Linked DNA regions of Homo sapiens: regions 2 and 3 are each linked to region 1. The links come from fine-mapping of genetic effects on gene expression. A gene starts in region 1. Each other region holds a variant in brackets. All regions are shown on one strand. Distances are between the middles of the regions.

Region 1 (8,181 bases):
GCTCATGTCTGTAACCCCAGCACTTTAGGAGGCCGAGGCAAACAGGTCACTTGAGGTCAACAGTTCGAGACCAGCCTGGCCAACATGGTAAAACCCCGTCTCTACTAAAAATACAAAAATTAGCTGGGCATGGTGACATGTGCCTGTAGTCCCAGCTACTTGGGAGGCTGAAGCAGGAGAATCGCTTGAACCTGGGAGGCGGAGGTTGCAGTGAGCCAAGATCGCGCCACTGAACTCCAGCCTGGATGAAAGGATGAGAGTCTCAAAAAAAAAAAAAAGAAGACAATGACTAAACACAAAAACACTTCCTCAAAACAAACTAGGTAGAGATATTACCCACTACCAAACTGACAGAGTCTGGAAAAAAAAAACAAATAAACCATTGTGTCTAAGAATGGACTGAAACTGACACCTTTCAATGGGAAGGCAAACTGGTAGAGCCCCATAGCATGCAGTCTGGCAGTACTTATCAAGAACCTTAAAAATAACTGTGCTCTTTGATTAAGTAATTCTACCTCAAAGAATCTTTCTTAAGGCAATAAATTAGAAAATAAAGAAAGGTTTATACATAAAGAGGTGATAAACATTAATGCTGAAATAATCTGCATTAAAGGGAAAAATAAGGCTGGGCACAGCAGTTCACGCCTGTAATCTCAGCACTTTGGGAGGCAGAGACGGGTGTATACTTGAGGTCAGGAGTTCAAGACCAGCCTGGCCAACGTAGCAAAACTCCGTCTAACTCTGTCTCTACTAAAAATACAAAAATTAGCCAGGTGTGGTGGCACACGCCTGTAGTCACAGCTACTCGGGAGGCTGAGGCAGGAGAATCGCTTGAACCCAGGAGGCAGAGGTTGCAGTGAACCAAGATCGCACCACTGCACTCCAGCCTAGGTGAAACAGCAAGACTCTGTTTCAAAAAAAATAATTAAAAAAAAAAAAAGGGAAAAAGAAAATCTACCCAACAATAGCCACGTAAATTATGGTTAATTCACATAATTGACTCCAACATAGCCATTTTAAAATGTCTATTTTTTTTAAGTAGGGAGAAATGTTTACAAAGTAACTTTATGTAGAAAAAGTCAAAATGTTAAATCAAGCATACAGTACATTCTCATCCATGACAGTTCCTATGGTGTGAGCTACCTTCTTTTTAGCCTTTACTCAGTTTCAGGCACTGTGCTAAAAGTTCTACAAGTACTATTTTGTTTAATCCCAACAAAATTCTGATGTAGTTACTATCATTGTGCCCATTTCACAAAGGAAAAAATGTAGGTTCCAAACTGCCCATGGTCAATTAGAAACTGGCCAAAAGAGGAGGCAAATCGAGATCTGACTTCAAACACTGTATTCTCTTAGCTACTGTATACAGCAAAGAGGAGACTGAGACAGAAGTGTGACAACATGCTAACAGCAGTTCTCCCTCGGTGGTGGGATCAGGAACCATGAAAGATCTTTTCTATACTTTCAAATATTTTTCAAATCTTCACATAATCACAAATTGGTAAAAAGAATGATTTTAAAATCTGCAAAATAACTTTTTTAAGTGTACAGAGGGATTCAGAAGAAAAGTTAGGCAACTTACATTTCCTCATCTTCATCTTCTTCATCCACCCAAACTGGCTTCTTTTGAGGTGGAAAATTACCTTTTGCTTCATTCTCCACTTCTGAGTCACCCGAGTCTTCATGTTCTTGAACCTACAGCAGACAAAACACCCTCAAGCACTGAGATTTTCCTATCCCATGACTGCAGACACATAGGCCTTACAGCCAAATGGCTCATAGAATGTTTTTTCTACCACTCTCTGATGAAATAATGGGATGGAATGCTACCATTGCAAATGCTGGAAGCAGAGGCAGAAAATGGAGAAATCAGAGAATGGCACCGACTGGACAGGTGAGGCAAGATGGAACAGTCAAGGAGAAAAAGTCAACACTCAACACGCAGGAAGGAAAACACCAAGTAAGACAAGAACAAAAGATGAGTCTGCAGATGAAAAAAGGAGGAGAAATGTCAGAACTACAGAAATTACAGGACCGGAGGCAAACTAGAGTCAAAGATATCTCCATTTTCCCAATCTGTTTTTGACCCCCTACCTCCTTAAGAAACTTTATACCAGCAGAGAGCGCAATGCCTCATGCCTGTAATCCCAACACTTTGGGAGGTCAAGGTGGGAGGACTGCTTGGGCCCAGGAGTTCGAGTCCAGCCTGGGCAACATAGGGAGATCTCGTCTCTACAGAAAATTTTTAAATTTAGCTGGGTGTGTGGTGTGCACCTGTGGCCCCAGCTAACTACTTGGGAGGCAGAGGCAGGAGGATCACTTGAGCCTAGGAGGATGAAGCTGACTTCTGAGTTTAAAGTGTTCGGAGAATTGTGCAGGTGTAATTTATCTGTGACCAACAAGAAGAGCAACCAGTTACTATTAGCAAAAGGGAGATGGAAGACTAATAGGTGCCGCTACACTCCAGTCTGGGTGACAAAGTTAGACCGTATCTCTAAATAAGTAAAAAATAAATATACCATTAAATCTAAATTCTAAAGTTATAAATTTATACCATAAAGTTTATACTATCAAATCTAAACCTAGGCCGGGTGCGGTGGCTCACACTTGTAGTCTCAGCACTTTGGGAGGCCGAGGCGGGCGGATCACGAGGTCAGGAGTTTGAGACCAGCCTGGCGAAGATGGTGAAACCCCGTTTCTACTAAAGATACAAAAAAAAATTAGCCAGGCGTGGTGGCGCACGCCTGTAATGCCAGCTACTCCAGAGGCTGAGGCAGGAGAATCGCTTGAACCCAGGAAGTGGAGGTTGCAGTGAGCCGAGATGGCGCCACTGCACTCCAGCCTGGGCGACAGGGCGAGTCTAAAAAAAAAAAAAAATCTAAACCTAGACCACAGAATATCCCTTGAAGTGAGTTTGAGCTTCCCAAAACCAATGATAGAAATGTCCAAGTGGTTTCTACTTGCTCTACTACTAGTCTAATAGCCTTCAAACCCAACAGCTCCCACCTCCGTACACTGTTCCTTTTCCAGACGACAAAACCGTCGCACAGTTCAGCATGTTTCCAGTAATAGTTCTGTACTTCCCAAAAAGATTGCTGCCACTTCTCCTACAAGCACCCGAAGGCGGCTCTGGTAAGCAGCTGACATTAACTAGGTCAGCATTTGTGTAATAAACATGGCCTGGGTAATTCTCGGTGAGCTTTCCTCTGCCCCCTTTATCTAAAATTTCACAGGCCTCTACACACGCCCATCTCCCTTTCCCGAATGTCCTTTTTTCTCTTCAGCACTTGTCACCAACAAACCTGAAGTTTACTCGTTTATCTCCTCTATCTTGTCTCTGCCACTAGCACACAAGCGCCAAAAGGCAGGGATTTTTGTCAGTTTTGTCCATTGCTGTGTCTCCTCCAGTGCCTAGAACAATGTCCGGGACTCTCTCAAGAAAAGCCTGGTATAGAATTTAAAGGGATAGCAAAATGTGTGCAAAAAGTATGATCAATCACGCAGGGTTTGCCATTGCCAGAAAGGGTATCTGGCAACTAACAGGTTCACCAATATTTGCTAAATGAACGGAATACACGATCATTCTCAAAACATGGTGGGTCTCATAGTCACATGGGGACATAGTTACAACGGAGATGCCCAGGCCCGTGCCCACGAATTGATTCCATCAACGAAATCGAATTCCTGAATCACAAGGAACTGAGGCAGGTGATCAAAAGACCACCCTCAGTTTGGGAAGAGGCTAGCGGAGTCGAGCAGCAGCGAAAGATGCTCACGACCACAGTTCGCAAAGCAGATACCCGAGCAGCGGCGCCTCCAGGGGCGGAGAAAGACGCGGTCCCCGCCCTCCAGGCACTTTCAGTCTGGAGCAGGGAGGCGAGGGACCCGCAGCTGCGACCCTCCGCGCCCGCGTTCTCGGGCTCCCTCCCACCTGAGCGCTCCCCGCCGCCGCAGGTCGCCCAGGCTCCGCCCCCCGGAGCTTCACCGCCCACCGCGCGCCCCGCCCGAGTGCGCCCAGCCCGCGCGCCGCGGCCTCCCTCACCCTCGGGCCTCGCAGACGCCGCAGCAACGCGTCCTCGTCGTTCTCGACGTCGCCGAAGACCAGCTCCTCCAAGCACCGCTCCACGGCCGGTTTGTCCTCCTCCAGCCTCAGGCGGTTCCGCTGCCGGAGCCGTCTCTCTTCCTCCGCCGCCGCGACTGCAATCGCAGCGGCCGCCGCGCTCGGCCGGGCCGGCGGTTTCCGCTGGGATGAAGGGGCAGGCTTTTGGGGAGGCCCGCCTGGCCCCGCTCCGGCTTTCCAGTCCGGCCTCATTCCGGGCTTCCGCTTCGGCTTCGCTCCGGTTCTCCGGTCCAGTTTCATTCGTCTCCTCCGCTCCGGCGGCATCGTTAGGTTTGAGGAGAAACGCAGGCGCTCACGTGGAACCTCGCTGCGCATGCGCCCAGGCCCCTCGCGGGCCGCCGCCGCCGAAGCCCCGGGGGCCGGAAGGAGCCTGCGCAGCCTCTTGCCACGTGACCAGCACTCCCTCCCTCTACGTAACTCCCGCTCCCCTACCCAGCCCCGCCCCGTGTGGGAGTTCCTCCGGGAGGGCCAATCTTCCGGGTGTAGGGGGAAGCGGCGTGACTGGAGTGGAAAATTTTTCCAACACAATTTCGCAGCTGCAACATATTGAAAGGAGCGCAAGAAACCCCGACTATACACTGGGACGGCTGAATGGAACTTCTGCTTTTCCTCTTGGCTGTAACCACTTGACTTGACACAAGCCCCAATACGCTTTCCACCCTTCGTCTTGGTACGGTCCTTGGAGTACGGAGCCTGCAGAGGGTCCCACGGTGGAAGCGAGAGAGGAGGGTATGTAGGGAAGTGGGCCAATCGGGGCGCGGGTCACGGCGCAGGCGCGCTGGGGAGGGAGGGCTATGCTAATGTTGTTGATATCCTGGGGCCACCCGAGTTAAAGGGGGGAAATCCGGGGGCTGCTGCACCCGCCACCGGTCTGGGCCCAGCCGGGGGCCCCCTGTAGTCGCCGCAGTCCCGGGGAGAGGCACCTGCCCCCAGCCCGGGGAGGGGGCGCCGCGGGCTCGGGGAGCACGGACAACCCCTACCCATGAGGCCCTGATGGAAAACACAAAGGATCTGGTGAGAGCCGAGCGCGGCAGCCGCTTTGTGTGCCAGGTGGGGGGGACGCCTGCAGCTCTCCGACCCCAGGAACCCCGCAGCTCCCTGACCCCGCTCCCTGGCCTGCTTCTCCATCCCACGCCCTCTCAACCTCCGGAGCCCCCCTCCCCCTTCCAGCCGTTAAACGATTCAGGGGTTCCCCTCCCCCCACCCCGTCAGCCTTGGACTCGTTGGGGTTCTCTCCATCTCCTCCACCCTTTGGAAGAAAAATTCGAGAAGAAAGTTTTTCTCTGCGTCCTGCCCCCGCCCCCTGCTCTGGCTAGGGGGGAAAGGCTGGATCCGAGACTTTTCCTTTTTTAGCCACCCAGGGTGGGAGAGTGGAGTAGTCCTCTCTTCTTGGCGGGGAGGGGGAGCACAGTTTCGTTGCTTTGCAGGGGAAGGTGTCTATCTGCCTTGGGGGCAGTGCCGCGAGGCGGTTTGCACGTGGAGGTGGAAATATTGAAAGGGGGCGGGGTGGGCACGTGCGGGAGAGGTGGGAGTGGTGTTTGGGAAGCAGCCTCCAAGGCTGCATATTTAAAAGGGTTTCAAGTCGGTGGACTTCTGTGACCATTGCGTTCTCCTTTGTGAAATAAGAATCCTAACATTTCAGAGTCGGAAGAGACATTAGAGGTCATCCAAAGCAGCCGTCCCCTCTGCAGCCTCTCTGACAAGTGGTAGGTAGTCTGAACCCTGCTTACACCCCTAAAAGCACTGAGAGCTCACTACTGCCCAGGAAAGCCCATATTTCAGTAGTTCTAATTGTTGTCTGCCTACCCTTATTAGACCCTTCAGTCTCATTCATGTCCTGGTTAAGTTGCTCCTTTTTTTACTTCTCAAATTTTCTCTCACATCCTCCTCACCCACCCACTGCTCATTGGCCTATATTTTGTGTGCCAAGAAAGAACAGCAGGGAAGTGGAGGAAGGGGGGTTGAGAGATAGTGAGGGCTAGCCGAAAACTTTGCTGGGTCAGTGTCAAGTGTGCTGGCTTACATGCCTGAAGATGTTTTTCTACAGGAAGCTAAAGAATTACAATATGGGAATTTCGTGCCTGTTTTCTCTTAGGAGTGCATCTTTTTGAAGTTAGAAATTTCAGCGTCATCTCCGTGGTTCTTGTATCACAAAACACATTTGTTTATTACCTAAATCACTTCTAAGGATGTCTAAAACTGAAGTGGTTAGAAGCATCACCTGGTAGAGGGATGATTAGATGATTACCGCCCACACCCGTATTTGACCTGTGTTCCTCGGAAGCTAGTCTTTCCTCCAAGGGCCTCTCTTCCAAATGCTTTTACTCCTTCTTTTTTTTTTTTAAGTAACTATCTTTTATGAGATTTGAAATTTACGAACCATTTTAATACTTGTTTAGAGTTTACAATATTTTTAATTCTCCTTATATTAGCATGCACCAGTACTTATCACTGGGTGGTTGAGATAGTTGAAACTATTGTCACTGGGTGTTTTTCTAACATTCTCCTTCATTTGGTGAGCTATGCTGCCTCTAAAAGTAGTTTTATTGGCCTAAGAATCTTGGATATACCTATTACTCTCTAATGTGGTGAAGTGGGTGTCAAGACATAACAGGTATAATGTAGAAATAATGCATGTGATTTAAAAGCCAGCAAATAAATTTCACCTTAAGCCCCAGTCTCCTATTTAAAAGGTTAGACTCAATTTTTCTCTCCTCCTCTTATAACTTAGAGACTGTTGCTTTGCTCTTGTGGACTTAGACTGTTATTTTATTTTTCATTTGTTTACCTCAACACCAGAGTGTTTAGAAAGAAAATAGCTGTACTTTTTTTTTTTTTTTGCACCACCTCCTTCTCTGAATAACAAGTAGCTTCTATCTATCTAAAACCCCATACTGATTGCTTGTGAGTACCTTGCAAATTATGGCAACATCTGTCTTGAATAAGTATTTATTCATAGTGCCTTACGTTGTTGCGTCATGCTTTTTAACCATCCAGTTTCTAACTTTATGTAATGTTTGACATAAAATATTTCCTCTAAATCTACTCATTAGAATTCAGCTTGTGAAAAAGAATCAGTAGAGGTGTAATAATAGTGTTTTTAACATTTTAATTAATAAGGAGTTCCAAGTTTTTTTCCTGCTTACTTTAAACATGAACTGTCATGACTTAAGTTGACTGACTTTGGAGACATCTGCATTCTAAACATACTAGACAGGAACAACTGGTTTTATTTTTAAGACGCTGCCATATTCTTTAAAGCTGGTTATATGTTGACCTTATTATCTAAACCTTTCTAGATGTTCTAGTGCTGCTTTTGGTCCCTCAATAATGTTGAAAATTAAAACAACATTTTAAATTGTTTTCAAATGTAACATAGTGATCAAAGGAAAATATAAGCTATAGTTTAAAAGTGAAAACAACATATTAGGATAAATACTAAACCACTGAATTACTAAAAGCCAAGAGTGCTCAGTAGTCTGAGTAACCACATTCTAAAATTAGACAAGTGACATTCTTTGGGTTGCTCTTTGTTTCTCAGCTTTTCATCTTTAAAATGTTTGCTAAATAAGATATAACCTTTCACACTTATGTATCATTAGTCTGAGGGTTTCAAAATTCAAGAAAGAATAAAAACATCAGGACAATAAAAGAGAAAGGACTTACAATAGTTAAAACAAGCTAAGATATTTCTCCTAACACCACAGTATTCTTAACTGTGCAAGATGACTTTTGATTTCAGGCAAAAATTGCACATAGATTTAATCATTATTTTTTAATAAACCTTGGCTTAAGGATTTTTTTACCTGCAAATTTAGGATTTCTCTTCTTGCTTTGCTGGAACCCACAATAAAAGGTGAAAAGGAAATAATTCCCATTTGAACAAACCCTGAATATGAGATAGGATGAAGTGATACAATAAGAGGGGTGCTGGCAGTGAGGTTGATGTCACAATTCTGCCATTGAGTAGCTCCATGGCCCTTGTTGGACAAGATCCTGTGCCTCCATTTTCTCATGGCAGTTGAAGGGTTAGTCTAGTATCAGCATAATCCAATAGAAGT
Region 2 (8,155 bases), 93 kb before region 1:
AGATGTCTGCATCCCATGTTCATTGCCACATCATTCACAATAGCCAAGATCTGGAAACAACCTAAGTGCCTGTCAATGAATAAATTGATTTTTTAAATGTGGTGTCTATATATACAACAGAATATATTCAGCCTTGAAAAAGAAGAAAATTCTGTCACTTGCAACAACATGGATGAATCTAGAGGACACTATGCTCAGTGATATAAGCCAGGCTCAGAAAGACAAATACTACACATGATCTCACATATATATGGAATCTTTTTTTTTTTTCTTTGAGATGGAGTCTCACTCTGTCACCCAGGCTGGAGTGCAGTGGCGTGATCTCGGCTCATTGCAACCTCCAACTCCCGGGTTCAAGCAGTTCTTCTGTCTCAGCCTCCCAGGTAGCTGAGACTACAGGCACCTGCCACCACACCCAGCTAATTTTTGTATTTTTAGTAGAGATGGGGTTTCACCATATTGGTCAGGCTGGTCTCGAACTCCTGACCTCAAGTGATCCACCCGCCTCGGCCTCCCAAAGTGCTGGGATTACAGGCATGACCCACCACGCCCAGTCATGTATGGAATCTTCAAAAGCTGAACTCATAGAGTAGATTTTAGAAGTCCTCATCACAAAAAAAAAGATAAGTATTGAGGTGATGGATATGTTCATTAGCCTGATTTGATCAATTCTACAATGCCTACATGTATGGAAACATCACATTGTACCCCATAAATATATATGATTATTATTCATCAATTAAAAGTTTACAAATTAGCCAGGCATGGTGGCTCACGCCTGTAATCCCAGCTCTTTGGGAGGCTAAGGTGGGAGGATCACTGAAGGTCAGGAGTTCAAGACCAGCCTGGCCAACATAGTGAAACCCTGTCTCTACTAAAAATACAAAAATTAGCTGGGCACGGTGGTGCGCACCTGTAGTCTAAGCTACTCGGGAGGCTGAGGCAGGAGAATGGCTTGAACCTGGGAGGCAGAGGTTGCAGTGAGCCGAGATCACGCCACTGCACTCCAACCTGGGAGACAGAGTGAGACTCTACCTAAAAAAAAAAAAAAAAAAAAGTTTAAAAATTAAAGTGGATTAATTCTGAAAAAATAAAAGGAAAGCAGATAGGCATCTGGAAGAGGTACCAGAACTTCCCCATTCCAAGGTTACTTATCTCAGAGTTGTGAATGGATGTCTCGGGGTGATGCTGTAGAACAAAGTGATCAAGGACAAGCAATGATTCCCAAACCCTCACCTGGGATCTAGAGTGCAAGACCTACCCTGTGGGCAATCAGGAGAGATCAGTGAGCAGCTGTCCTCACCCTTGGGTGCCCACCTCCTTTCTTCAACCTTACAAATCTGACCTGTGGATATAAGGTCTAAAACCCCCATCGACATAAGTCTGATTTTCTTTCTGTTCTGTCTGCAACACAGAAAAGAAGAGAACCTTTTAGGGCATTTAGAAAAATGATAAATTCCAACAAGGTTTGAGATTAATTGCATTTTTCATTTTTTATTTAACTCTCTTTGCTTTCTATGGCTATAGGAAAGTGTGAGTAGTCTATAAGGGCTGTCCCTTAGCCGAGCATCATAATCTTTGCTAATTCAGGACCATGACATGCATGGAGGAACAAATGGATAGTTACATAGATAAATTGACTATTGGTGGGTAGATGAACTGGTAGATAAATAATGCTGTAAAGAGAGAGGAACAGAGACAGGGAGAGTAAATTTTAAACAGTCAATCAGCAAGGCCAGGGCTGGAACAAACACCATCTCCCTAGAATTGCCCAGAAGAAGAACGTGGCTTCTGGAAGGCTTCTAGGAATGTACATTGAAGAATATTCAAACTGCCCAAAGAAATAGCAACAACAACAACAGCAACAACAAAAATCAGTTATCCAACTACAAAAGGGTGAACAGAATAATTATGAACCTCAGGAATTAGAAGAGGAAAGAAAATGGAAAGACAGACTTATGAAAAATCTTAACACTTCTATCTACTGCCACGTTCAAAGTAAAGTCCAAACCAATCAGCAAAACTCCTAAGAGGAGCCTGCGGCTGCGAGAAATCTTTCTGAGGTCACTGAGTCCCTACCCTGCCTGAGGGAGGCAGAGCTGTTCCTAAGTCGCCCTCCCCTGGAACAGAAGCTCGGATCCCAAGGGCTGATTGATTCCTGCGCCTTGGAGAAATACTCTTTAAAATTAAAGAATTACTCGGCAGGTTTTTTCCTCTCTTGCCTAGTCGTGCATTATTACCAAAAGGGAGAATAAGCTGCAACTGTCAGGTCCAGCGGCTCCACCCTCAGTCTAGGAAGGAGCTCACGTGTGCACTGTCATCAGACAGATTTGTCCCTAGAGCCGAGATGTTCTCCGCAGTGTCGGTTATAATGCCCAGAAAATTAAATCCAAGGCTGCTGCTGTTTCTGCAGACTGGCGCTGGTCAGTTACAGGCAGGGCAGGGAAGAAGCAGTGGATGGAGAAAGTAATCATCTGTTTTGAATTAGGGATGGCAGGGAGGCAGTATGGGAGCGGGAGGAACATGCACAGATCTTTGGGTTTTCATTTCTGCTTTGCCAGATGGCCACTGTGTGCCTGTAAGCAAAGGACCTCACCCCTCTGTCTCTCTGAACTTCCACTTCCCCATATACAAAAAGAGATAGTAGTGCCTATCCCCTGAAGTTATTTCAGGATTAAAGATTATGCATAAAAGGGCCCATCCCACAATCCGTGAAAGCTGTCATCACGGTCATCAGCCCCTGCCTGGCTCTCAGGCCTGCTCCGCTGCTCCAGCCCTGCCCACAGCTGAGGCTTCTGACTCCACATGCAGTTTCTTCCCCTCACTTCCCTCCAAAAGGCAGCTCCAGACAGAATGTGTCAGCTCTGCCTCAGTCTTCCTTGCTACTGTGCCAACTCTAATGAGGTGGCTCCAGCATTACAGGTGGCCTTTGACGTGGTGTCTGCCTCTAGTTTCTTGGCCTCATCAACTATGCAGTGGTCTTACTGAGCAACTGCTAACTCGGGTCCCTTCTGAAACAGACATCCTGCCTGGCTCCTGCCTTACTCTCAGTCTCCCTCCCAGAGACTGGACTTCTACTCTGAGCCCTAGTCTGATGACAAATGCTTTGCTATTCAAAGAGAGACCTCTGCGCTGACAGAACCCTAAGCATCTCCCACACCAGGATCCCTGTTGCTGGACTCTGCCCATGTCAACCCCCACCACTTGGTTCAGTCCCACCCTTGTTGCAGGCTGCCTGCCAGAGATCAGCAGGCACCTCCCTCCTTCCTGCCAAATCTTTCTCCCTCTGCAGAATGTGATTTGGTGGAATAGACACAAATTATAGAATCAGACTGCCCTGAACATCTATGTGTGACCTTGGGCAATTTCTTCACCTCTCAGAACCACATGTATAAAATGAGGATAACAACAGCCTCATTGGGCCATGGAGGAAATTCAGGGAAGGACGTGCATTGCAAGCCTGGCACTGTGCCTGGCATGGGGGCAGTGCTCCCTAAAGGCCCACTCCCCTTTGCCTCCTCCCATCGCCAATGGCCTGTAACTGGTCATGTCCACCTGAATCCAGAGGTAGAAAATGGTCATTAAAACAAATTGTCACTTGATTCTATAAGCCAGGTGGCACATGACAGCCATTAATTTTTCACATGAAAAATGGCTCTGCTAATTGAAAAACATCAAAAAGATTGAGGTTTACACAAATGTTCAGCTCTGTTTATTTTTTCTAATTTACTTTTCAGCAGTCAGTAAGAACTTAATGAGCTCTCATTTATGGCTTCCTCCCTATTTATAGATATTGGCGCCTGTGGTGTTCTAGATGTATATACTGAGAGCATTCAGCCTGGGCTACATGGCCAGTAGGGAAGAGTTACAATACCCAGGTAAATTCCAGACAGGAATTACTGCTCCTCAAAAACTTAGCTGATACACTGTTCATTAAGAAAACGCCCTGCTACTTTACATTGGCTGGATACTGTTTTCCTCTTCTTGGGAAAAATTTTTCTAGCTGGAAGTTTCATTTGATATGACATGAAAATAGTTAACATTTATGGAGCAATTGCTCGGTTTCAGACACCGTGTTGTGCATGGTATGTGGATTCTTTCATGCTTGTCATAACACTGAGGAAAATACCCTTATTAACCCTGTTTCCAGATGAGGGAATTAAGATGTAGGGGAAAATGTAAAATGTTGAAACCCAATTTTCTCTGGGTCCAGATTCCATATTTTTATCATGGCATCTACACAGCCATACCCTCTTTTCAACAAGCAGAGAGCCAACTGGTGAGTTCTGTCCATTTGAGGAGAGACAGATA[C/T]GGGAGAAGAGCACTGCGCCAAGAGTCAGGAGACATGAATTCAAGTCCCACATCTTCCAAGAGTCCTCAGGACCTTGAGCATGTCCCTCACCATCTCTGCTTTGAAGTTTAGAGGTCTGGGATAGGGCTGGAGCCAGAACGCGGGCACCAACCCTTCTTCCCCTCTCGCTGACCAGCTAACAAAGACAACAAGGGGAATTAGAGTTTCAGATTTATTAATGGCCAGTTTTATACCCCCAAACCACCCAAAGTAGAGCCCTCTGACAAAGCTGGAATGGCAAACACAGATTAGACTCAGGCCAAAGTGGACGCCTCTGACTCCTGCCCCAGGTCTAGACCTTGGAACCCACCAGACCATGAGGATGCCCCACCTGGCCAGGCTTGGAGTGAGAACAAAGGTCTTTGAGTCCTGGGGCAAACAGCTCAGAAAGATAAAGTGGAGCCTCTTTCCCACTGCTGAGGCACCAGAAACCCTGCCCAGCAGCAAAACATGACTCAACCAGTCCTCTAATGAAGAGAAACAGGAGGGCAGAGAGAGGAACAGAGCTTACACGGCAGTCCTTCCCTGAGCGGGGAGATGTAAAAGCAGAAGTTCTCACCCCCATGGGCCAAGGTGGGGGTCGGCAGAGAGGAGGAGAAAGATCCCCCTAAAATTCTTGACCTGTAAACTAAAAGGCTGGACCCCTGAAGCAAGAGGCAACACTGATGAATGAGAGGAATGGCTGCCACTATGCAAAGTGAATGGATTCAAGAAGTTGGATTGTACCTGACTGCAGACTAGAGACACAGCAGTGGGAAGGTTGGCACCTCTGGTTTGGAGAAACTGAGGATGATCCCTTTGAGTTAAGGACACTGTCTTATTCATTCTATATCCCCCACACCCTGCACTGATGGAGGCTGGCTCAGGGTCAGGCTCAATCAGTGTCTGTTGAACTAATGAGAGAATGAATAGAAGGGCTGTGGTTTGGCATCTCCTGAGACAACGAGCCCACAGAGCTGCTCTGAGACATGATTCATAAGCCTTCTGGTGCTGCAGGGATGGTCACTGGTGTTGTACCTGTTCATTTTGACTCCCAGTCACATATTAACAACCAAGATGGCAGCAGTTCTCACAATAGCATTTGTGGGGAGATGACACAAATAGAAATAAATTACTTCTAGAGATCAGCATGTTACAGCACAATCACTTGTATAACTGCATACCTCAGGCCTTGGGAGTAGAATCGAAATTTAGCCTGGAACCCTGGGCTCCCAACTCGCATTTTGGTGCTCCTTTCCTCCACCACAGAGCGCAGCAGAGGCTGCCGTACAGGCAGAGCTACATACAGCACCGGACTCAGTGAAGACCCCATCTACACTCAGGCCAAGAACTCTTTTTTTTTTTTTTTTTTTTTTTTTTTGAGGCAGCATCTCACTCTATCACCCAGGCTGGAGTGCAGTGGTGCAATCTTGGCTCACCGTAGCCTCAAATCCCTGGGCTCAAGCAATCCTCCCACCTCAGCCTCCCAAGTAGCTGGGACTACAGGTGTGCACCAATATGCCTGGCTAATTTTTTTATTTTTAGTAGAGATGAGGTCTAGCTATGTTGCCCAGGCTGGTCTCAAACTCCTGGGCTCAAGCAATACTCCCACCTTGGCCTCCCAAAGTGCTGGGATTACAGGCTTGAGCCACCACACCCAGGCAAGAGCTCTTCTTACAAACTGGTTTTTTCAACACTCCTAACCTTGCCATCATCCCACAAGTAACAAATAATCAAAATCCTCTTCTTGGACTTCAAATACAAGCACCAGGAATACACAAAAATATATGCATGAGTTCTCTTGCAATCTTATGTTGACAACTGAACCAGTGAGTTCAGGCAGCTAGTAAGCAGCTGAACTGGGCTGCGGTCCCAGATATTCCCTGAGCCAAGGCCAAGGAAAAGCTTTTTCAAGAATGTGATGTTTAAGCTGAGCCCAGGAAAATGAATAAGCAGGAGTTAGCTTGGGGAAGGGGATGAGATGGAAGCTCCTACAGGGAGAGGGAGGAGCACTTTCAACATCCTTGAGGTGGGAGCGCTTATGATTTTTCCATCAGACCACGCTGCCTCACAAAACCTCATTTTATGAATGAAAAGAGGACATCCCCCAGAACAAAAATCTTGTATCATATCACGGGAAAGGAAGGAAGGGGCAGGGAAGGGGAGGAGGGGAGAGTGGAGGAGATCGAATTCTTCCCCTTTCCAATATGATAACATCCTTTTCAGCAGATCACTCACCTTGGGAGATGCTCCATTAAAAACAGAGTTCTAAGACCAAATAAATTTGGGAAATAACCACATAGCTATATCCTCCTCTTGACAAGTCATACAGCTCATTAACCATTTAAAGACCTTGAGAAGTCCTGCAGCAAAGAACATGAGTTTCTCCAACCCATTTGACTACTTCTTCAATCAATACCTATTTAACATTCCATAGGATATACGTCAAGGAAAGCCTTCCATAAATTAACTTCAACAGCCACGTGGAAAGTGCTAACTCCGACCTCAGCCCCAAGGACCAAAAGCTCTTTAATACCACAGTCTATTGCACCAAGTTTCCTATGCAGTCCCGTGAGCATCGCAAGTGCCCTGGTCAAGCCCCAGGCTTAAAGCACCCATCCCCAAGACAAGGGGCATGTGGAATGAAGCACACGCTCACTATTTGATCTCTGGGAAAAGGGAGGAGGAGGCATGGCTTGAGCTGGCTTAACAGAGATTTACTTCACCGGCATCCTTTGGAATGGATATCCTGCATGATTGAGCCGGGCTTTGTTCAATTCTCAAAGCAATTTGCCAGGAGTGAGAAAGGAGCACTTAGAAAAGCAAGTTGGTCAGTCCTGGATGATTACTTCTTATTCCAAAACAATTACCATAAAGGTAAAATGGGTTATGTTGCTGTAAAAAATATGACTCTCTCCAAACAGTAACACATGGATTCCCAACCGGAGCCATCAAGGCCACGGCCAAAAGCAGGCCGGGCATAGGAACTCGGGGGAAGATGCTTCTGCCTGTCAAACAGTACTGGTTTAAAACAGAATTAACACAGATAAAGGAGGGCTAGATAAGTAGGGGTTGTGGGGGGCAGTGATGGGGTGCCCTGAAGACAAGTACCTCCTTAGCAGCCTGAGCCCATCCCTACAGAGTACTCTGAGATGTAAAAAGACAAACACCCAGTTTCCTTCTTCTTCTGCCTCAACCTCCAGACCTACTGGACCTCCTAAAAGAATAGGGCTAAGTAGGATTTCTCAACCTCAGCACTGCTGACATTTTGCTTGGGTAATTCTTTGTTGTGGGGGGCAGTCCTGTGCATTTTGGGAAGTTTAGCTGCAGCCCTGGCCTCCACCCCAAATACCAATAACTCCCTCCTCCCCACCCAGTTGTGACCATCCAAACTGTCTCCAGACATTGCCAAATGTCCCCAGGAGGTAGGAAGTACGAGCAAAATCATGCCTAATTGGGAACCACAGGACAAAAGCAATATGGACATGGGAGAAGGAGCCAACCAAGTCTTTGGATCCAGCCCATCGCCAAGAGAAAACTGTGCTCAAGACTGGCCTCTCCAAGAGAGCAAAGAAGAATGCATCCAGAAGTTGTTGCTGTTGGCCCCTTTCTGGGCACTGATGGAACAAGAGGGGTCTGAGTGCCCAGTCACTGGCATCACAGCCAAGTGCCCAGCCTGCTCCATAGAGGACAGCCAGCATAAGGGATAGAGCCAAAAGACACCAAAGAGCCTTCCTGATAAGCCAAGTCATTCTAGGCAGCCACTCCCCTTACCTAGCCTTGCTTCCAATCATTCCTTTGCTGGTTGAAAGAAGACAAGTTAAA
Region 3 (8,181 bases), 610 kb after region 1:
GCCTTTTGAAAGTGAGTTCCTCCAAATCTAAGGAGTCTGGGACTCCAGAGTCTGAGACGCCACTTTCTGGGACGGTGGCTAACTTCATGAACAACAATTATGAGGAACATGTGTATTTTTGGAAAAATGGGTTAACTTTGCTGAGGACAACTTAAGAGTTACAGTGGCCACAGTGGGAAAGTTTTGACCTAGATAAAACTGTTCACTTGCAAGGTGCATTAGAAAAGAAAGGTTCAAAAATGCCACAAAAGCAATGGGATGCATTCTTTAATTGATACACAGAGGCATCTAAAAGATTAAATGAATAAAAAATTGCCTCTTTATAATAGGTTCCTTACAGAAATCAAACAAAAAAATCTTAAAAGCTCCTTCACGAATCTTATTCAAAAGCTTTAGTCATCTGGGCAAGAAATCTTGTTCCATTGGCCAGAAGAACAATTTGGATCCAGATAGTCTTTAATAAATTCAGGAGTTTTATATTACTGTACCTGGAACATGGCTAAGATATTTAAATGAAAGCTGTAAGATCTGTTGCTGTTTATGTTTATATAAGTCTGTATGTATGATACAGGTATCATAGTTTCTTATCTCCTTTTAATGCTCCAAAATTAAATTATGAAAGAGCTCTATTTTGTTGGCTTTAAGAAAAATAAGTGCTTGTATAAATGAAGTATTCTCTCAGAAAATTAAGAACTACCTCAAATACTTTTGCAGCTCATCTGACTTGGGTAATCTTTGGCAAATAAGAATATTGTTGGTTTGACTGAAACAGACATGTTTTCATAGTTTTGGGGATTAAATATCATAAAGATGCATGATTTCCTATCTAGGTTTACTGGTAAAACAAGCTTATGTTGTCTTTATATTATAAAATTTGTCAGCAAGAAAAACAAAATGATGACTAGTTGTTTATTATCTCATCTTTATAGGCAATCCAAGCATAAGTGTTGAAAATAAGTGAGTTAAATGAATGTAAGATAAAATTCCCATGTAAAAGATGTCCTTCCTATACCAGAAGGTTTTATTATTACTTTTTTGAAATAGGGTCTCTATCGCCTACTCTGGAGTGCAAGTGGCAAGATCTCGGCTCACTGCAACCTCTGCCTCCTGGGCTCAAGCAATCCTCCCGCCTCAGCCCCGCCAAAGTATCTGGGACTACAGACACAAGCTACCACATCCAGCTAATTTTTGTATTTTTTGTAGAGATGGGGTTTCACCATGTTGCCCAGGCTGGTCTCGAAATCCTGAGGTCAAGTGTTCCACCTGCCTCAGCCTCCCAAAGTGCTAGGATTACAGGCGTGAGCCACCACGCTCAGCCACCAGAAGGTTTTAACACTCTTAGCATCAAGAATAGAAAGTTGAGGAGGAGGGAAATCTGTACAAACAACAATTTAGTTTTCAGGCCTCACAAAACAAACAAACAAAAAACCTAAAGGGATACAAATGAAATTTTGCCTCCTTTACAGTTTATTTTTACAGAGAGACTTAAAGACATTTTGGACCATTGAGAAACATGTTCTGTGCCACACTGACAAATTGTACTATGAGAAAGCTCATGCTTCTAGACATTATGGTTCATAGATTTACCAATCTACAGCTGGTGTGACACACAATTCACAAATGCTTACTTTCTAATGTCCATGGAAATTAAGGTCACTAAGGGTTAAGAATTCTTTTTTTTTTTTTTTTTTTCTGAGATGGAGTCTCGCGCTGTCACCCAGGCTGGAGTGCAGTGGCTCAATCTTGACTCACTGCAACCTCCACCTCCTGGGTTCAGGTAATTCTCCTGCCTGAGCCTCCCCAGTAGCTGGGATTACAGGTGCCCGCCACCACGCCCAGCCAATTTTTGTATTTTTAATAGAGACAGGGTTTCAGCATGTCAGCCAGGCCGGTCTTGAACTTCTGCCCTCAAGTGATCTGCCTACCTCGGACTCCAAAGTGCTGGGATTACAGGCATGAGCCACTGTACCTGGCCGGGGTTAAGAATTCTAATTAATATATGTAGCTACAATTACTAGAAACAATAAGGGGGAAAATCTATATGAAAATATACAAGGAAGGTAAGAAAAAGGAATATATGAAAAAGAAATATACAAAGGAAGCTAAGGAAAAGCTATAAGACGTGAGGATGTTTTGTTTTGATAACGGAAAAAGAGAATAAATTTTGTCCTAAAGTGAAATGACTGATTTTTCGAAAATGAGAAGAGGAAAGTATAGGACAAAAAGTGAATGGATATAAGAGTTGTAGGAGGTTTGTGGAAGATGAATCTTGTGAAAGAAATTTTATGGGTGATCAAGCTGGTTAAGATTAGGAGGTAATTATTTACAAGTTTTTTAAGAATAAAAGTTAGCGACCGGGTGCAGTGGCTCACGCCTGTAATCCCAGGACTTTGGGAGGCAGAGGCGGGTGGATCACTTGAGGTCAGGAGTTCGAGCCCAGCCTGGCCAACATGGTGAAACCCCATCTCTACTAAAAATACAAAAAATAAGCCGGGTGTGGTGGCAGGCGCCTGTAATCCCAGCTACTTGAGAGGCTGAGGCAGGAGAATCACTTGAACCCGGGAGGCGGAGGTTGCAGTAAGCAGAGATTGCACCATTGCACTCCAGCCTGGGCGATAAGAGCTAGCATTAATATCAAAATTACACTGATGCAAAACTAGAATTTGGTTCTCTCCATTAAAACAACATGGTGTTCTTAGATTATTGGTCTGATCATAATAGGAAATTGTAAAATGTTTTTCTTTCTCTTTAGGTAGTTGGCCTAGAAAACAAAGATTCTGTGTTCTACCCAGATAATTTCCTGTGCTTCATGCTGTCTTTGTTAGGTTTTTGATCACTTAAGAAAACTGAGAACTCGCTATTAAAACAGCTAAGCTTTTTCTACAACTATGTAACTTTTTGTATATGCCTCCGAAGTCATTTAATGAACGGCTATTGTTCACAGTGACCTGTGATCCTATTAAAAAAATTTATTTTATGTGTTGCCTATTTCCTTCCTTCCTTCCTTTCTCTCTCTCTCTTTCTTCCTTCCTTCCTTCCTTCTTTCTTTCCCTTCTTCCCTCCCTCCTTCCCTTCCCTCCCTCCCTTCCTTCTTTCCTTCCTTCCTTTCTCCTTTCCTCCCTTCCCCTCCCCACCCCTCATCTCTCTCCTCTCTCTCCTCTCCTCTCCTT[CTTT/T]TTTTGACAAAGTCTCACTCTGTCACCCAGGTATAAAGCTGACTCCATACATAGTGGACTGTAGCATAATTCAATATGTAAACAAACTGCAACGTAACTTGAGAGTATATTCTTACAATAAGCAGCCAAGTCTCAGCCAAATATAGCAGAATTTTCAGCCAATCACAAGCTGCCAGATCATCAGAACATGTCCACATAAGGCAAACACCTCATTGCACCATGCCCAAATAAGGCAAATACTGATCTGTCGCCAATCAAGCTGTTTCTATACATCAATTCCTTTCTCTGTCCATTAATACTGCCTGCCCATACTGCTGGGTGGTAAAACTCTGTGAACCTCTACTGGTTCAGGATGCTGGCTGATTCATGAATTGTTCTTTGCTCAGATAAACTCTGCTAAATTTAATTTGTCTAAAGTTTTTATTTTAACAGAATTTTTCCTCAAATGTGTGGTGACTTTTTTTTTTTTTTTTTGAGATGGAGTCTCCCTCTGTCGCCCAGGCTGGAGTGTGGTAGTACGATCTCAGCTCACTGCAACCTCTGCCTCTGAGGTTCAAGAAATTCTCCTGCCTCAGCCTCCCGAGTAGCTGGGATTACAGGCACGTGTCACAATGCCCAGCTAATTTTTGTATTTTTAGTAGAGGGGTTTTGCCATGTTGGCCAGGCTGGTCTCGAACTCCTGACTTCAAGTGATCCGCCTGCCTCGGCCTCCCAAAGTGCTGGGATTACAGGCGTGAGTCACTGCACCCGACCTGTGGTGATTCTTGCGGCTTGGCTGTCTCAATATTTTGGAGTAAGACACTAAAGAGTTGGCTGCTCTGTGTGTTGGGGGCAGGTGGATTTGGGACTGGATCTGGGACTCCTCAGGGCAATCTGTGAACAATGATGAGTGAGAGTACCAAGGACCAAGGACCAAGAAACAGCTACTGAAGACAGAGTACCGAGGACCAAGCTTATTGGCTGTTGGGCTTCACTGCAGAGTGATCAAGTAGGAACCTGGTCCTTTAGGGAAGACTCCCCCAACAACTGGAAGAATCTGGAGGTCTTTTCTCTGGGACCAATTTAGGAGTGAGGGCTGAGGGTTCTATCCTTCAGTATGCAGACTTTTACTTAATTCCACAGAATAAACTGCTGGTCTTCTGTGAGGTGGCTGGAATTTGCCTGGCTTTGAGAGGAGATGGATAAGTATCTTGGGTGTTTCATCTCTCCTTATGCATTCTCCTAGCAGCCGCTGCTTTCAGCCCTGCTCTTCCCCTTGCCTCCTTCAGCCCTCCAATCCCCGAGCTTTTACAGACTCCAAATGGCCTTTGGTTTCAGTTGTTCTCTGCTGTGTCAGTGATCACTCCTCAACCTGTTTCTCACTTTCCAAAAAGGTGTTAATATCTTGTCTGCTGTTGTCTCCTCTTCTCTTTGTCCTTGTAGGTTTACATTCTTTATTCCTTACTGTCACTTTGATGGAAAATCAGGAAGGACTGGAGATAAAGTCTTGTGTTCAATCCACCCTATAGAACCAGAAGTCCTTCCAACTACAATTTTTTTTTTTCTTTTGGGCAGAGTCTTGCTCTGTCTCCCAGGCTGGTGTGCAGTGGTGTGATCTCAGCTCACAGCAACCTCCGCCTCTGGGATTCAGGTGATTCTCCTGCCTCAGCCTCCCGAGTAGCTGGGATTACAGGCTTCCACCACCACGCCCGGCCAATTTTTGTATTTTTAGTACAGACGGGGTTTTGCCATGTTGACCAGGCTGGTTCTCAAACTCTTGACCTCAGGTCATCCACCCGCCTTGGCCTCCCAAAGTGCTGGGATTACAGGTGTGAGACACCATGCCCAGCCTCCAAGGGCGAATTAAATAGACCCGTTTCAGACTTTATGCAGGACCTCCCTGCAACAGTGTGGGCTTCCCCCATCTCTTGGAAACTACTCTTTCCTGGTCTCCTGGTTTCTTGGCAAGCATTCCTTGCTGTCTCCTTATCTTCCTTCCAGTTCACCCTGTGGACATGGGCCCTAGCTCCCAAGTTCAGACCTTGGTCCTTGGTGCTCTCTCTCATCATTGTTCACAGATTGTCCTGAGGAGTCCCAAATCCAGATCAACAGCTCAAATCACCTCCTGAGCCTCAGCGCCTACTTCCTGCTGCCTCTCAGATGGCGTCACCATCTGTCTGCAGCCACCTCATATTCAATACCTCTCAAAGTAAGATCCTTCACTCCCTGCCAGAACCAGCCCTTCCTTTGGCCTTGCCTGCCTCTGCCAAGGGCATCACCATTCTGCCAGCTACCCTGACACCTGTAGGGACATAGGTCCTATTGATTCTTGATGGAAGCATAGTAGCTGGACAAAGAGGTGTTTGAGACTTGGCAGGGAAAGGTTAAGCACCTTGGCCAAGGTCACACAGCTTAAAAGAACTCACACTTGGCCGGGCACAATGGCTTACACCTGTAATCCCAGCTCTTTGGGAGGCTGAGGTGGGAAGATCACGAGGTCAGGAGTTCGAGACCAGCCTGACCAACATGGTGAAATCCCGTCTCTACTAAAAATACAAAAATTAGCTGGGCGTGGTGGCAGGCACCTGTAATCCCAGCTACTCGGGAGGCTGAGGCAGGTGAACTGTTTGAACCCGGGAGGCGGAGGTTGCAGTGAGCTGAGATTGTGCCACTGCACTCCAGCCTGGTGACAGAGGGAGACTCCGTCTCAAAAAAATAAAAAATAAAAAGAAGAAGTCACACTTAAGCTGTGTGATCTTGACCCAGGTTCTTAACCTCTCCCCTCTCTGGGCCTTGGTTTCTTTAAGGGTAACATTGGGATGATAATATCTCTTACCTGGTTCCTCCCACCTGGCCCCTTGGCCAGACCCTCATCTCTTCATGAGCAATTGCCATAGACTTCTGGTCTCTTCCCTTCAGATTCCCTGGGGTCCCAGATCCTGCATGGTTTTCCCCTTCCTTTCTGGCCATGCCATCACAGTCTCTTTGCTGATTCCCCTGCCTGGTGCAAGAGGGTCCTGGAGCTCAGTCCTTTCCTCTTCTCTGCCTCCTTCCTATCTGCACTCAACCTCTTGGCAATCCCATGCAGTCTCATATGATGATATGATGTACCATCTATATGCCAATGACTTTCAAGTCTATCTCTCCAGCTCATTGCTCCCCAAATCTCCAGCTCCATATCTAACTGCTGACTTGACATCTTCACTCCATACACCCTACAATAGCCTGCATAGACCTGCACAATGTCCCTTCCCCCAACCCATGACCCTCTCCCCGCCTTTCCTGCTTCACTCCAGCCACTGGCCTCCTTGCTGTTTCTAAATGCACTTGCTGCTCCTGTCTCAGGGCCTTTGCACTTGCTCTTCTCTCTTCCTGGAACACTCCTCCCCCAGACATCCTGAAGTCTTTCTTTCTCAATGAAGCCTACCCTGACCATCCTGTTTAATACTGCCACCTGTGTCCCACCCCTGTATTCCCAATTCTCCCACCCTTCTCCGCTTTTTCTTTTCTCTATAACACCTATCACCTTTTGACATGATATATAATTTACTGATTTATTATATTTTCTCTCATCTTTTCCTTTACTTGCTGACATGTAAGCTCTTTGAAGGGAAGAACCTTTATTTTATTTATCTATGTATCCTAAGTACTTAGAATGGTGCCTAGCACATAGTAGGTGCTCAGAAAAAAGATTTGCTTAAATAAATCAAATATTTATTGAAGACCAGGGACATTGCCCAGTGCTTTGAGAGGCCAAGGCAGGAGCATCACTTGAGGCCAGGAGTTTGAGACCAGCCTGGGCAACATAGCAAGACGCTGTCTCTACAAAAATGTAAAACATTAGCCTGGTCTGGTGACAGGCACCTGTAGTCCCAGTTACATGGAGGCTAAGGCGGGAGGATCTCTTGAGCCCGGGAGTTTGTTGCTGCAGTGAGCCATGATTATGCCACTCCACTCTAGCCTGAGCAACAGAGCAAGACCTGGACTCTTAAAAAAAAAATACACACACACACATACACGTTTATTGAATAAATGAATGAAAGAATAATAGTATACCATCCCTTTAAACTTTCAGTAGCTCCCTACTGCCTAGAAGGCAAAGTTCAAACATTTTACTATGGCATTCAAAGCCCACAGCTGGCCTTGAACTATCTGGCTATGTGAACTGTTGAATAATCTATATGCTTGAGTTCTGAGTTCTCCCATCTTTTTTTTTTTTTTTTTTTTTTTTTTTTGATGGAATCTTGCTCTGTCGCCCAGGCTGGAGGGCAGTGGCACAATCTTGGCTTACTGCAACCTCTGCCTCCCGTGTTCAAGTGATTCTCGTGCCTCAGCCTTCTGAGTAGCTGGGATTACGGGCGTGCACCACCACGGCTGGTTAATTTCTTTCTTTTTTTTTTTTTTTTAAGGCCAAGTCTCGCTCTGTCACCCAGGCTGGAGTGCAGTGGTGCGACCTTGGCTCACTGCAACCTCTGCCTCCAGGGTTCAAGCGATTCTCCCACCTCAGCCTCCTGGGTAGCTGGAATTACAGGCACATGCCACTACGCCAGGCTAATTTTTGTTTTCTGTTTTTTTGTTTGCTTGTTTTTGAGACGGAGTCTCGCTCTGTCGCCCAGGCTGGAGTGCAGTGGCGTGATCTCGGCTCACTGCAAGCTCCGCCTCCCGGGTTCACGCCATTCTCCTGCCTCAGCCTCCTGATTGGCTGAGACTACAGGCGCCCGCCACCATGCCCGTCTAATTTTTTGTATTTTTAGTAGAGACGGGGTTTTACCGTGTTAGCGAGGATGGTCTCGATCTCCTGACCTTGTGATCTGCCCACCTCGGCCTCCCAAAGTGCTGGGATTACAGGCATGAGCCACTGCACCCGGCCTTGGTTTTTGTTTTGTTTTGGTTTTGAGACGGAGTCTCACTCTGTCACCTCGGCTGGAGTGCAGTGGCACGATCTCAGCTCTCTGCAACCTGTGCCTCCAGGGTTCAAGTGATTCTCCTGTCTCAGCCTCCCAAGTAGCTAGGACCACAGGTGCACACC

Alleles and levels. Positions count from the first base shown, and alleles are read on the strand shown. Sizes are in standard deviations (SD) of each study's normalised expression. Not every link is listed here.
In carriers of allele T in region 3, the expression in naive CD4 T cells of the gene that starts at base 4,920 in region 1 tends to be lower than with CTTT alone (moderate effect, 0.63 SD a copy in Schmiedel 2018).

What was found. PIP is the estimated chance that this variant, and not a neighbour inherited with it, causes the effect.
Region 2: its variant is fine-mapped to the expression of MBTD1 in whole blood (TOPMed, PIP above 0.99).
Region 3: its variant is fine-mapped to the expression of MBTD1 in naive CD4 T cells (Schmiedel 2018, PIP 0.90).

The regions. Positions count from the first base shown.
Region 1 is chr17:51,256,788-51,264,968 of GRCh38, reverse strand. MBTD1 (mbt domain containing 1) reads left to right here and starts at 4,920. Exons shown (of 17, transcript NM_017643.3): 1 at 4,920-5,134; 2 at 5,763-5,826. It overlaps UTP18 (UTP18 small subunit processome component), which reads right to left and starts at 4,423. Exons shown (of 14, transcript NM_016001.3): 1 at 4,043-4,423; 2 at 1,583-1,695. The coding sequence starts at 4,384. RefSeq lists an enhancer at 3,353-3,402 and silencers at 3,873-4,062, 4,413-4,522, 4,863-5,182.
Region 2 is chr17:51,350,138-51,358,292 of GRCh38, reverse strand. No RefSeq gene overlaps it. Among named protein-coding and RNA genes, the nearest start is that of LINC02072, 18 kb to the right of the region's middle. The variant C/T (reference allele first, on the strand shown) is at 4,312.
Region 3 is chr17:50,644,578-50,652,758 of GRCh38, reverse strand. The region is part of intron 1 of ABCC3 (ATP binding cassette subfamily C member 3); the gene reads right to left. Among named protein-coding and RNA genes, the nearest start is that of ABCC3, 14 kb to the right of the region's middle. The variant CTTT/T (reference allele first, on the strand shown) is at 3,171.